Linked DNA regions of Homo sapiens: region 1 is linked to region 2. The links come from fine-mapping of genetic effects on gene expression. A gene starts in region 2. The other region holds a variant in brackets. All regions are shown on one strand. Distances are from middle to middle.

Region 1 (5,387 bases), 37 kb after region 2:
GATGTGGAGAAATGGGGATGCTTTTACACTGTTGGTGGGAGTGTAAATTAGTTCAACCATTATGGAAGACAGTGTGGAGATTCCTCAAGGATCTAGAAGCAGAAATACCATTTGACCCAGCAATCCCATTACTGGGTATATACCCAAAGGATTATAAATCATTCTACTATAAACACACAGGCACACATATGTTTACTGCAGCACTGTTTACAATAGCAAAGACTTGGAACCAACCCAAATGCCCATCAACAATAGACTGGATAAAGAAAATTGGCACATATATATCATGGAATACTATGCAGCCATAAAAAAGAATGAGTTCATGTCCTTTGCAGGGATATGGATGAAGCTGGAAACCATCATCCTCAGCAAACTAACACAGAAACAGAAAACCAAACACTGCATGTTCTCACTCACATAAGTGGGAGCCGAACAATGAGAACACATGGACACAGGGAGGGGAACATCATACACCAGGGCCTGTCAGGGGGTGGGGGGTAAGGGGAGGGAGAGCATTAGGACAAATACCTAATGCATGCGGAGCTTAAAACCTAGATAACGGGTTGATAGTGCAGGAAACCACCATGGCACATGTATACCTATGTAACAAACCTGCACGTTCAGCACATGTATCTCAGAACTTAAAATTAAAAAAAAAAAAAAAGATTTGAAACCAAAGGAAAAAAAAAAGATCCTTAATAATATATTCTTAGTTTTTCATTAACTCACAGGAAAAGTCTGACCACCCATGAGACAGAAACCTATTACAGCTATTTACAAGGTAACCAGGCTTGTAAAAATATAAAAATGTAAAAAAAAAGAAACATGGAGTTTTAAAATGTAATGTTCATATTCATAACACAACACCTCCCTATAAATAAAAACATACACACAAATATTAACTATTTACAAAAATGCATGCATATTTAAAGAAATATAAAGACACATTAGAGTGGGTACTTATGGGGAGAAAGATACAGGATAGAGTTTAGGTATGAAGGGTGAAAAAAGAACCTGAGAGGAACATACTGATGATAACAGTGTACTTTGGAGCTAAAGGGTATAATTAATTCAGCTCTTAGCATTTAAGGTCCAAAAGGAGTTGAGGGGAGAGGCAGGAAGAAAAAAGACTGGGATTCAACTTTTTTTTTTTTTTTTTTAGTGAATGAATGAAGAGCTTAGTGAGCTCTGGTTATAATGTGCCAACAAATTTTAAAATATGGCAAGATTAAAATGGGTTGCTGGGTGTCTATTTTGCAGTCTAAATGCAAAATAGTAAAGGTAGCATAAGAATGACACCACTATAGGATTAAGAGAGAAAGAAAGTGTGCCTAATAGAAGAACCTTGGAAAGTTAAACAAGAAATCCCTTCTTTTGAACTCCTGACTATAGGTCTGGACCCTAAGCCTGTTTAAAAGAGCAATGGCAGAAGCAACAGCTAATGTTTACCAAGACCTTATTATGTACCAAATAATATGCTATGTACTTTATATATATTATCTCATTTAATCTTCTTGACAAACACAAGTACTCATTTTTCAAAGAGTTTAAAAGGTGAGGCATGGACAGGTTAAGCAACTTTACAAAAATGTCACACAGCTCTTTGCAAAGCCAAGACTTAAGTCAGGCTGTGTGATTCCAAAGCATGAATTTTTAACCATTTTGCTACAATACATCTTTGCAGAAAATATAAACTGCTTTAAGAAAAAAAGTCTTCTAAGCATTGCTGGCTATCTTAGGAGCTAACTGGTCTCCAGGCTGGCTCTGAACAAGCAATGCTGGGATAATGGTTGTAGAACAATCTCCAAGGGTAATATATTCTAGAGGAAGAATTCACCACTATAGAGTTTTGTAACTGTTGTCAAGGTTCCTATTATTTACCTTCAGACCAGAAAAGGAAAAGCCCTTCATTTCATTCAGATTCTTATCTACAAAATCTAAAAGTTATAAAGTAAATGACCAGTGTTAACCTGTTATTCTAGAAATAACAATTCTGGACATAATTAAAATGAAACAAAATAGTTCATTAACACCAAGGATTATAGCCACTTGTTGAGTTATGAAGACTAGAGTAACAAACACCCTATTTTCCCTTTTCTTTCCCAAGATCAATCCGACTAATTTTCTCCCAGACATCAATCAAACTCCATTGGATACACAACCCCCCTGTCTGTCTTTTATGAAGACTAGAGTAACAAACACCCTATTTTCCCTTTTCTTTCCCAAGATCAATCCGACTAATTTTCTCCCAGACATCAATCAAACTCCATTGGATACACAACCCCCCTGTCTGTCTTTATCTATATCATGGTAAAATAAACTTAACATAAAATTTAACATTTTACCCATTTTTAAATGTATAATTCAGTGGCATTAAGTACCTTCACAATGTCGTATAATCATCACCACCACCTATATCTGGAACTTTTTATTCAAATAAAAACTCTATACCCACTAAAAAATAGCTCCTTATTCTCCCCTCCCCCAAACTCTGACACCATCTATTATACTTTCTGTCTATATTAATTTGTGTATTCTAGGTACCCCATATAAGTAGAATCACACAATATTTGTTATTCTGTGTCTTGTTTATATTGCTTAGCATAATGTCTTCAAGGTTCATTCACATTGCAGCACATTTCAGAATTTCATTCTTTTTTTTAAGGCTGAATTATAATCTTTTGTATGTACATACCACATTTTATTTACCTATTCATCTGGCAGAGGATATCTGTGTTGTTTCCACATTTGGCGGCTGTGAACACTGGTGTACAAATATCTGTTTTGAGTTCCTTCCTGCAATTCTTTTTTTTATTTTTTGAGATGGAGTCTTGCTCTGTCGCCCAGGCTGACCAGCAGTGGCGCGATCTCCGCTCACTGAAAGCTCCGCCTCCCAGGTTCACTCATTCTCCTGCCTCAGCCTCCTGAGTAACTGGGATTACAAGCGCCTGCCACCACGCCTGGCTAATTTTTGGTATTTTTAGTAGAGACAGGGTTTCACCATGTTAGCCAGGATGGTCTCCATCTCCTGACCTCATGATCTGCCCGCCTCAGCCTCCCAAAGTGCTGGGATTACAGGCATGACCCACCGCGCCCGGTCCCTTCTTGCAATTCTTTTGGGTATATACCTAGGAGTGGAATTGCAGAATCACATGGTAATTATATATTTAATAATTTGAGGAGGTGATAAACTTTTCCACAGTGGCTGCACCATTTTACATCCTCACAAACAATGCACAGCTACCCCAATGATATGTGTGTATGT[A/ATGTATGTATG]TGTATGTATGTGTGTATATGTATGTATATATATGTATATTTATATATATATGTATGTGTATATATATATGTATGTATGTAAAATAGTCATCCTAATGGGTGTGAAGTGGTAACAAATTGTGGTTTTGATTTGCATTTCCCTAACAGCTAGTGATGTTAAATATTTTTTTCATGTGCTTATTGGCCATTGGCCATTTGTATTACCTTCTTTGGAGAAATGTCTACTCAGGTCCTTTGCTCATTTTTGAATTGGGTTGTTTTCTGTCACTAAGCTGTAAAAGTTCTTTATATATGCTGGATATTAACTTCTTAGCAAATAAATAATTGGCAAATACTATCTCCCATTCTGTGGGCTATCTTTAACTCTCCTCATAGTGTCCTTTGAAACACAAAATTTTTTACTTTTAATGAAGCCCGGTTTATCTTTTGTTTTGTTGCCTGTGCTTTTGGTATCACATCCAAGAAATCATAGCCAAATCGAAGGTATTGAAGCTTTTTCCATTCTTCTAAGAGTTTTATGGTTTTAGCTCTTACATTTAGGTATTTAATAAATTTCTAGTTAATTTTTGTACATAATGTTAAGGCAAAAATCCAACTTTCACATACTTCTGCATGTGAATATACAGTTTTCCAAACACCGTATGTTAAAAATGTGTACTCTGCTGTTATTTGATGATGTGTTCTATATATATATATACGCCTGTTAGGTCTAATTTGTTTATAGTGTTGTTCAAATCCTCTCTTTCCTTATTGATTTTCTGTTGGTTGTCCTATCCATTACTGAAAATGAGGATACTGAGGTCTAACTATTATTATAAAATGGTCTACTTCTCCAGATCAATTTTTCAACATTTGCTTGATACATTTTGGCACTCTGTTGTTTTGTTATGGGAACTTTGGGGTGTCACTTTTCTGGCAGGAGACCTCTGTGTGGCTGCTGCAGCAGGGTGGGCAGCTCCAGGTGCTGGCTCTCTGCAAGGCTACAGCTGGACCAGGCGTAGCGCGAGCAGCTTCTACAGCTGGCACTGGGGAACACGATGGCATCTGGAAGCTTGGAGATGCCAGGAACCGTAGGGTCCCAAGGAGAAAGTCACAGCCCTGGCTCAGGGAGCTCCCAGGTCTCAGATACATGAAGGGTTGCAGCTCTTCTCTCTTTCTCTTCACCCACAATGTGGCAAGCAAGGGGCATGTCTCAGCCCTGACTGTGTTACAGCTCTCTTAGCCTCACCATTCGATGGATCCTGAGTTCTTGTCCAGCAACCAGGAAGAATGAGATACACAGACAAGTGGAGTGTCAGCAAGTCAAAGAGGAGCTTTACTGAGTGACAGAACAGCTCAGAGGGGACCTGCAGGGGGCAGCTCCTTTCAGCATCCAGGGTGTGCTGATGAGTGTTCGGCTCCTAGCAGAGACAGTAGCTCTTCTCTGCTAGGGAGGTCATCCCAATGAGTGTTCAACTCTCAGCAGAGAGGGTAGCTCCTCTCTGTAGGCAGGTCATCTCAACAAGTACTCAGTTCTCAGCAGAGAGGGTAGCTCCTCTCTGGAGCTGGTCATCCCATCTTCTCTGCTGTGGCTGAACCTGGGGCATTTATGGGCCTCAGAGCAGAAGTGTATGCCGACTGGTCCATGGGCAGCCACAGACAGCCCAGAAAAGGCACCACATGTACCCATTCCAGTCTGTGGGACTAGCAGCCCAGCCCTCAGCCTTCAGGCCCACCTTGGCCTGAAGGTGGGGCCTCACCAGGGACCAACCCCCTTCCACCCAGGAGACTGTCTGCCTCCTGCCACCATCCATGGCGACCAGCCTGTTTGTGCCAAGGGGCACCTGCAGGCCAGTGCTGAGCTGCCCTCAGCACCCCCAGGATTCCCCTCATGCTTGTTGGTGCCCAAAGTCCAGAGAGGGCTGAGGCAGCAAGGGGCTGGTGTGTCAGCACTGCCCTAAGTGTGTACACACTGGGCCGGGCTTTGACAGCACTCAGATTGGCCCAAACCCTGCACTGAGATCAGAGCAGGCACTGGGAGCAGGGAGAGGCCAGGCAGCAGGAAAAGACACCCCTGAGCCTGTGGGTGCAGGGGGAACCTTCCTGGGCCCCTGAGGGTGAAGAGTGCAGAAATGCCTAGGTC
Region 2 (5,387 bases):
ACGAAGACCTCAAAGGAAACATCATAAAAATACTTCAAACAACAACAGATTTTCTTGAAACAAATGGAAAATTAGAAAATCTCGCCAAAGACATAGAAGATATAAAGAAGAACCAAAGGGTGATATCAGTGACATGGTGGAGTATCTCCAAAAATCCTTTCCTCCACAAAAACGAGAATATTTGTAAAAAATTGTCAAATAAACTTTTTTAGAACTCTGAAAATTAAGCAAAAACTTGCAACAATGTGCACAGTATTTACCTAAGAAAAATGCCTGAATCTCAGGAAGAACAGCTTGGTGGCATTTTTAATTTGTCATATTCTCACCCCTCCACCCAAGCTCCGTAACAACCATGAAAACCAACAGCCTGCAAACATGATGTAAAGCCTGGCACCAAGTGAAGAGGGTAGAGAGGTTGGAGCTCTTTAAAACACCATTCTGTGAGAAATGTCATCATTTCACCAGTCTGGTACTTCCTGGAAGATGCTATTCACAAAGCTCTCTGTAGTTTACCTGACATGGAGCTCAACTAGTATGAACAGACTTCTCCTAGGAAGCGTTTGTCAAAAAAAAAAAAAAAAAAAAAAAAAAAAAAAAATTCAGAGGTAATTGTTTAACATTATGACTGTCTGATGTGGTAGATAATAGGAATAAGGTGTCCTTAGAGGACTCTGAAAAGCTCAAATATATTCCTGAGAATTTAGAAAGTCATGCAAATAACTAGAACTGTGTACATGCCCAGAGCAATGTATATGCCCAAGAAAGACCTGAGAAGGCCCTAAATTCTCAACTTATGACTAATTTGAAGCTCTGAGCAAGTAAGAAGTGAAGGCTATACATGGAGCTGTAAATTGCATGGCTGAATGTTGAAAGCATGCCCAAAAAAGCATGCAGAGCCTCTCGACAAAGACTGGCAGATTTGTTGGTTTTGGGTTTTAAAGAAACCTCTGTCCAATAAAAGGAAACATAGTCCAATTAAAAAATGGGCAAAGGATTTGAACAGACATTTCTCCAAAAAGATATTCAAATGACCAATAAACATTTGAAAAGATGCTCAACATAATAAGTCGTTAGGGAAATGAAAATCAAAACCACAATGAGGTATCACTTCACACCTACTAGAAAGGGTAATAATTCAAAAGATGGACAATAACAAGTGTTGGCAAGGATGTGGAGAAATTGAAAATCATATCTTGCTGGTGGGAATGTAAAATGATGCAGCCACTTTGGAAAACATCTGGCACATCCTAAAAAGTTGAAGAGTTACCATATGACCTAGCAATTCCACGTCTAGGTATATTCCCTACCTGAGAGAAATGAAAACATACTTCCACACAAAGCGTGTACATAAATGTTCATAGCAGCATTATTCATAATAGTCAAAAATTGAAACAACCCAAATGTTCATCAATTGATAAAATATATCCAAACAATGGAATTATATCCATCAAAAGGAATGAAGTATTGATATATGTTACAATGTGAATGAACCTTAAAAACATTCTAAGTGGAAGAATCCAGTCACAAAAAACCCACGTTGTATTAGTGTGTTAATATGAAATGTGCAGAATAAGCAAATTTACGGGTAGAAGTAGATTAGTGGTTTACCAGGCCAGCATTAAGAGGCAGGAAGAAATGGGAAGTGACTACTATTAGTTATGATGCTTTTTTGGGGGCAATGAAAATGTTCTAAAATTGTGGTGATGGCTCCATAACTAAGAATATACTAATATACGAATATATTAGTATACTAATATCGAATTTGCTAAAAACAACAATTTTTTTTTTTTTTTTTTTTTTTGGAGAGACAGAGGTCTTGCTGGTTTGGAACTCCTGACCTAAAGCGATCCTCCTGTCTTGGCTTCCCCTAACACTGGGATTACAGGTGTGAGCCATCGTGCTTGGCCCAGATACTTCAAATGGGTGAATCTTTTGGAGATTCCTAAAATCCACATTTGATGAATGTGGATTTTTCAAAACTGTGTAAAATATCCATTACCTTTCTAAGATCACTTCTTTCCTTTAGTCTGCTTAAATGGAAAAGCTGGTAATTTCATCTGCGCCAACATTCATACAAAATAAAAATATAGTCTGTATTTAAAAGCAGCTTTTGTTCATATGCTTTAATTATTTCATTTACTAACACATCAAGGCTTGCTGAAGCAAAATAACTGGCCCGTAATCAAAAAGCAAATAAGAGTCATCTGGATTTCAACTCTGGTTGTCTTAAGCCAGCCTCAGCCTGCATTTCATGACATCCTTAGGGAACTCAGTGTGGATATGGATGAAACCATATAAACACGGAAGCTGTTTTCAACGTGCTTTAGAAATTATAACACAGCAATCATTCTGGCTACAATGTGGCAGGCACCGTACTCAACACTTTATTCACAAGGTGTTATTAGTTCATCACAACTCTAAGTATTAAGCTAATTCACAAACTAGAAAGATGAAACAGAAAGATACCAGGAATTCGTGCAGTTAAATGGAATACATCTAGTCCCAATGATCCACAGTATCGTCAAAACATAGCTAAGTTGGGGGCGAGGAAGCAAGCTTAGTAATCATCCAAACTTGGCTTAAAGTGTGGTTCTGACTGAATTCTCTGAGCTTCAATTTACTTAACTGTGAATCAAGGGTAGTAACAATGACCGCGTTCGACGATGGGAAAGACGCCACGCTCACAAGCAGACAGATCCTAGTACACCTGAAATCCAACCGGGAGTGGGGGACAGCGGCGGGGAAGTGGGGGTGTGGAAAAGACTGGTGGAAGAGCTTTTAGGAAAGCTCTCACCCCGTCGCTAGCTCCTTCCTAGCCCGAGTGCCAGCCCTTAACTTCACATTTTACAGATTCCCTCCCAGGTCTTGATCCTGCCAAGGAGGAGGGTCCCACCCCTTGCGGAAGATCCTCCTCACTCCACTCACCAACATGGGGACTCCATAGCCGAGAGTCTTGTTCTTGCGAAAAGCACGCATCACCGCGGGTGCAAACATGAGTGAACTCTTCCATCGGCTCAGAACTCCAAGCGGGCCTAGCGCAGACTCCCAAATCTCAGCAGCTCACGCTCTCACCAAGACGAGTACGTCCTTAACTCACTTCCTTTTCCTTGGTTATTTGGTGCTCGGTCCTTAGTGAATGGTTTCCGCTAGGCAAAAGCAATCGAGCCATCGTAACATACTTGTGCGTCCGCCCAGAAATGTGGGCGTCAGCGTTTTTGGTTCCGTAACGTCGGCGTGCAATTGGGATTTAGAGATTTGAATCGGTTTACGATCACCACCAAATTGATCTGGAAACCAGTACTTCCCACGTTCTGGGTCCTAACTAACGTCTGCTTAGAACACTCCCTTAGGCACATAGCCACTCGATAAAATCAGCTAAGGAAAAAAGTATTTTGAGGCCGGGCGCGGTGGCCTGGGTGGGTGGCCTGTAATCCCAGCACTTTGGGAGGCCGAGGCCGGTAGATCACCTGAGGTCAGGAGTTCTAGATCAGCCTGGTCAACATGGTAAAACCCCGTCTCTATTAAAAAAAAAAAATACAAAAATTAGCCGGGCGTGGTGGCAGGCGCCTGTAATCCCAGCTACTGGGGGGCCGAGGCAGGAGAATCGCTTGAACCCGGGAGGCGGAGGTTGCAATGAGCAGAGATCGCGCCATCGCACTCCAGCCTGGGGAACAAGAGCGAGACTTCGTCTCAAAAAGAAAAAAGAAAAAAAAGTATTTTGAAGCTGGTACTCCAGTCTTTATGGCTATTTGTGGGATGAGGAATTTGCCAGTTTAATGGAGACTTTTAAAAATAAATCGCTTTTGAAAGATTAGGTTGAAATGTAATCAGTGTAGTGTCTCATCAGTCATTACTGAACTTTTAATGCTAATGATTTTACTGTGAGATAACCTGTAATCTTTAGTCATTTATGAATGTCTATTTACCAATGATTCAGCAACCATACAGGCCACCTTTCAGCGTGTCTTTGAAAGGGTTCTAGGAACACAGATAAAAATATATGATCCTTACCTTAAAGACACTGGCGATTTCATGGGCACAGAAACAAACATGTGTGAAGTACTGGGATAGCTTAGGAAGCCGATCCCCCACGTGTCCCATTTACCAGAGTGAATCAGAGTGCAGGTGATGCGGAATATTATCTTCCATGCTATTCCTGAAATATTTCCATCTGTCCCTGCCTCTCTGTTACCACTGAAATGTTCCTTTTTTTAATTCCTTATCATCTTTTCACCTATTAAAGTAGCCTCTTAAGTGGTCTCCAGAAGAGAAGCTCCAGATCTACTGCAGGCTACTCCAGTGAAACTTATCCTTTTGGCTAAGATCAAGTGTAGTATCTGTTCTTAACAGTTTAATATTTGACACATTCTCTATCCAAGGAAAATATGTTAAATGGGTTTTTGAAGCAAGGAGATGGAATAGGAGTTTGCTCCACCACTCTACACATCAACCTGTATTTCAATACCTCCAGAAACCCAGGAACGGTGCATCTCTCCCATCTTATTTACTTCCTTTTGATATTTCAAAATTCATGCAGACCAGGCATGGTGGCTCATGCCTGTAATACCTGCAGTTTGGGAGGCTGAGGCAGGAGGATCATTTGAGCCCAGGAGTTCGAGACCAGCCTGAGCAACAAAGCAAGACCCCATCTTTACAAATAATAATAATAATAATAAATTAGCCAGGCATGGTGGGGTCTCAGCTACTTGGGAAGCTGAGGTGGGAAGATCACTTGAGCCCAGGAGGTCCAGGCTACAGTGAGCCGTGATCATGCCACTGCACTGCAGCCTGGGTGACACAGCTAGACCCTGTTTCAAAAATAAATAAATAAATCTCACGTGGCATCCAGGTTAGTTAAGCGTATCACATCTCCTACTTTCCCTAAGATCCTAGAAGCCAAAGGCGCTGCTCTAAAACTCTAGCGTTTTCCTACATCTTCACTACATAAAACATCAGCCTACTGGATACTACTCCATCAAAACCCGGCACCTAAGTAGTAGCTAATAATGGGTTAAATCGTATACATATATTCAAAATAATGCTAGAGTCGATAATCTTACACTTTTCAGATAAGGCATCTATCCAATTTAAGGCACTCTATGTCTTTAGTATCTTGTTTGTTCAATCACTCAAATAAGCATTTATTGAGAACCTTGAAATGGCCCTGAAGGAGTAACTGTGAACAGTAGGAATTACAGGTATGCCGGCAGATTGTCAGGGGACAAAATCTGTGACACTGAGGAATGTAAGCACCTATCAAATCATACTACATAGGTGGTAAATTTTACCAGCTATGCATAGCGCCCTTCTTAAGCATCACTACTGTATACTTCAGTTTTTCCATCTGTTAAATCGGAATGAGTGATATTTGTCATCAGTTTACGATT

Direction of the effects. Alleles are on the strand shown, and positions count from the first base shown. SD is a standard deviation of normalised expression in the study named.
In carriers of allele A in region 1, the expression in iPS cells of the gene that starts at base 3,090 in region 2 tends to be lower than with ATGTATGTATG alone (moderate effect, 0.60 SD a copy in PhLiPS).

The links. PIP is the estimated chance that this variant, and not a neighbour inherited with it, causes the effect.
Region 1: its variant is the best candidate, but not a certain one, in a credible set for the expression of COX16 in iPS cells (PhLiPS, PIP 0.70).

What each region holds. Positions count from the first base shown.
Region 1 is chr14:70,393,317-70,398,703 of GRCh38, forward strand. The region is part of intron 1 of SYNJ2BP-COX16 (SYNJ2BP-COX16 readthrough); the gene reads right to left. The region is part of intron 1 of SYNJ2BP (synaptojanin 2 binding protein); the gene reads right to left. Among named protein-coding and RNA genes, the nearest start is that of SYNJ2BP, 21 kb to the right of the region's middle. The variant A/ATGTATGTATG (reference allele first, on the strand shown) is at 3,266.
Region 2 is chr14:70,356,594-70,361,980 of GRCh38, forward strand. It overlaps COX16 (cytochrome c oxidase assembly factor COX16), which reads right to left and starts at 3,090. Exons shown (of 4, transcript NM_016468.7): 1 at 2,926-3,090. The coding sequence starts at 2,994. The region is part of intron 3 of SYNJ2BP-COX16 (SYNJ2BP-COX16 readthrough); the gene reads right to left. It also overlaps the pseudogene RNU2-51P. RefSeq lists enhancers at 2,810-3,119, 3,580-3,669.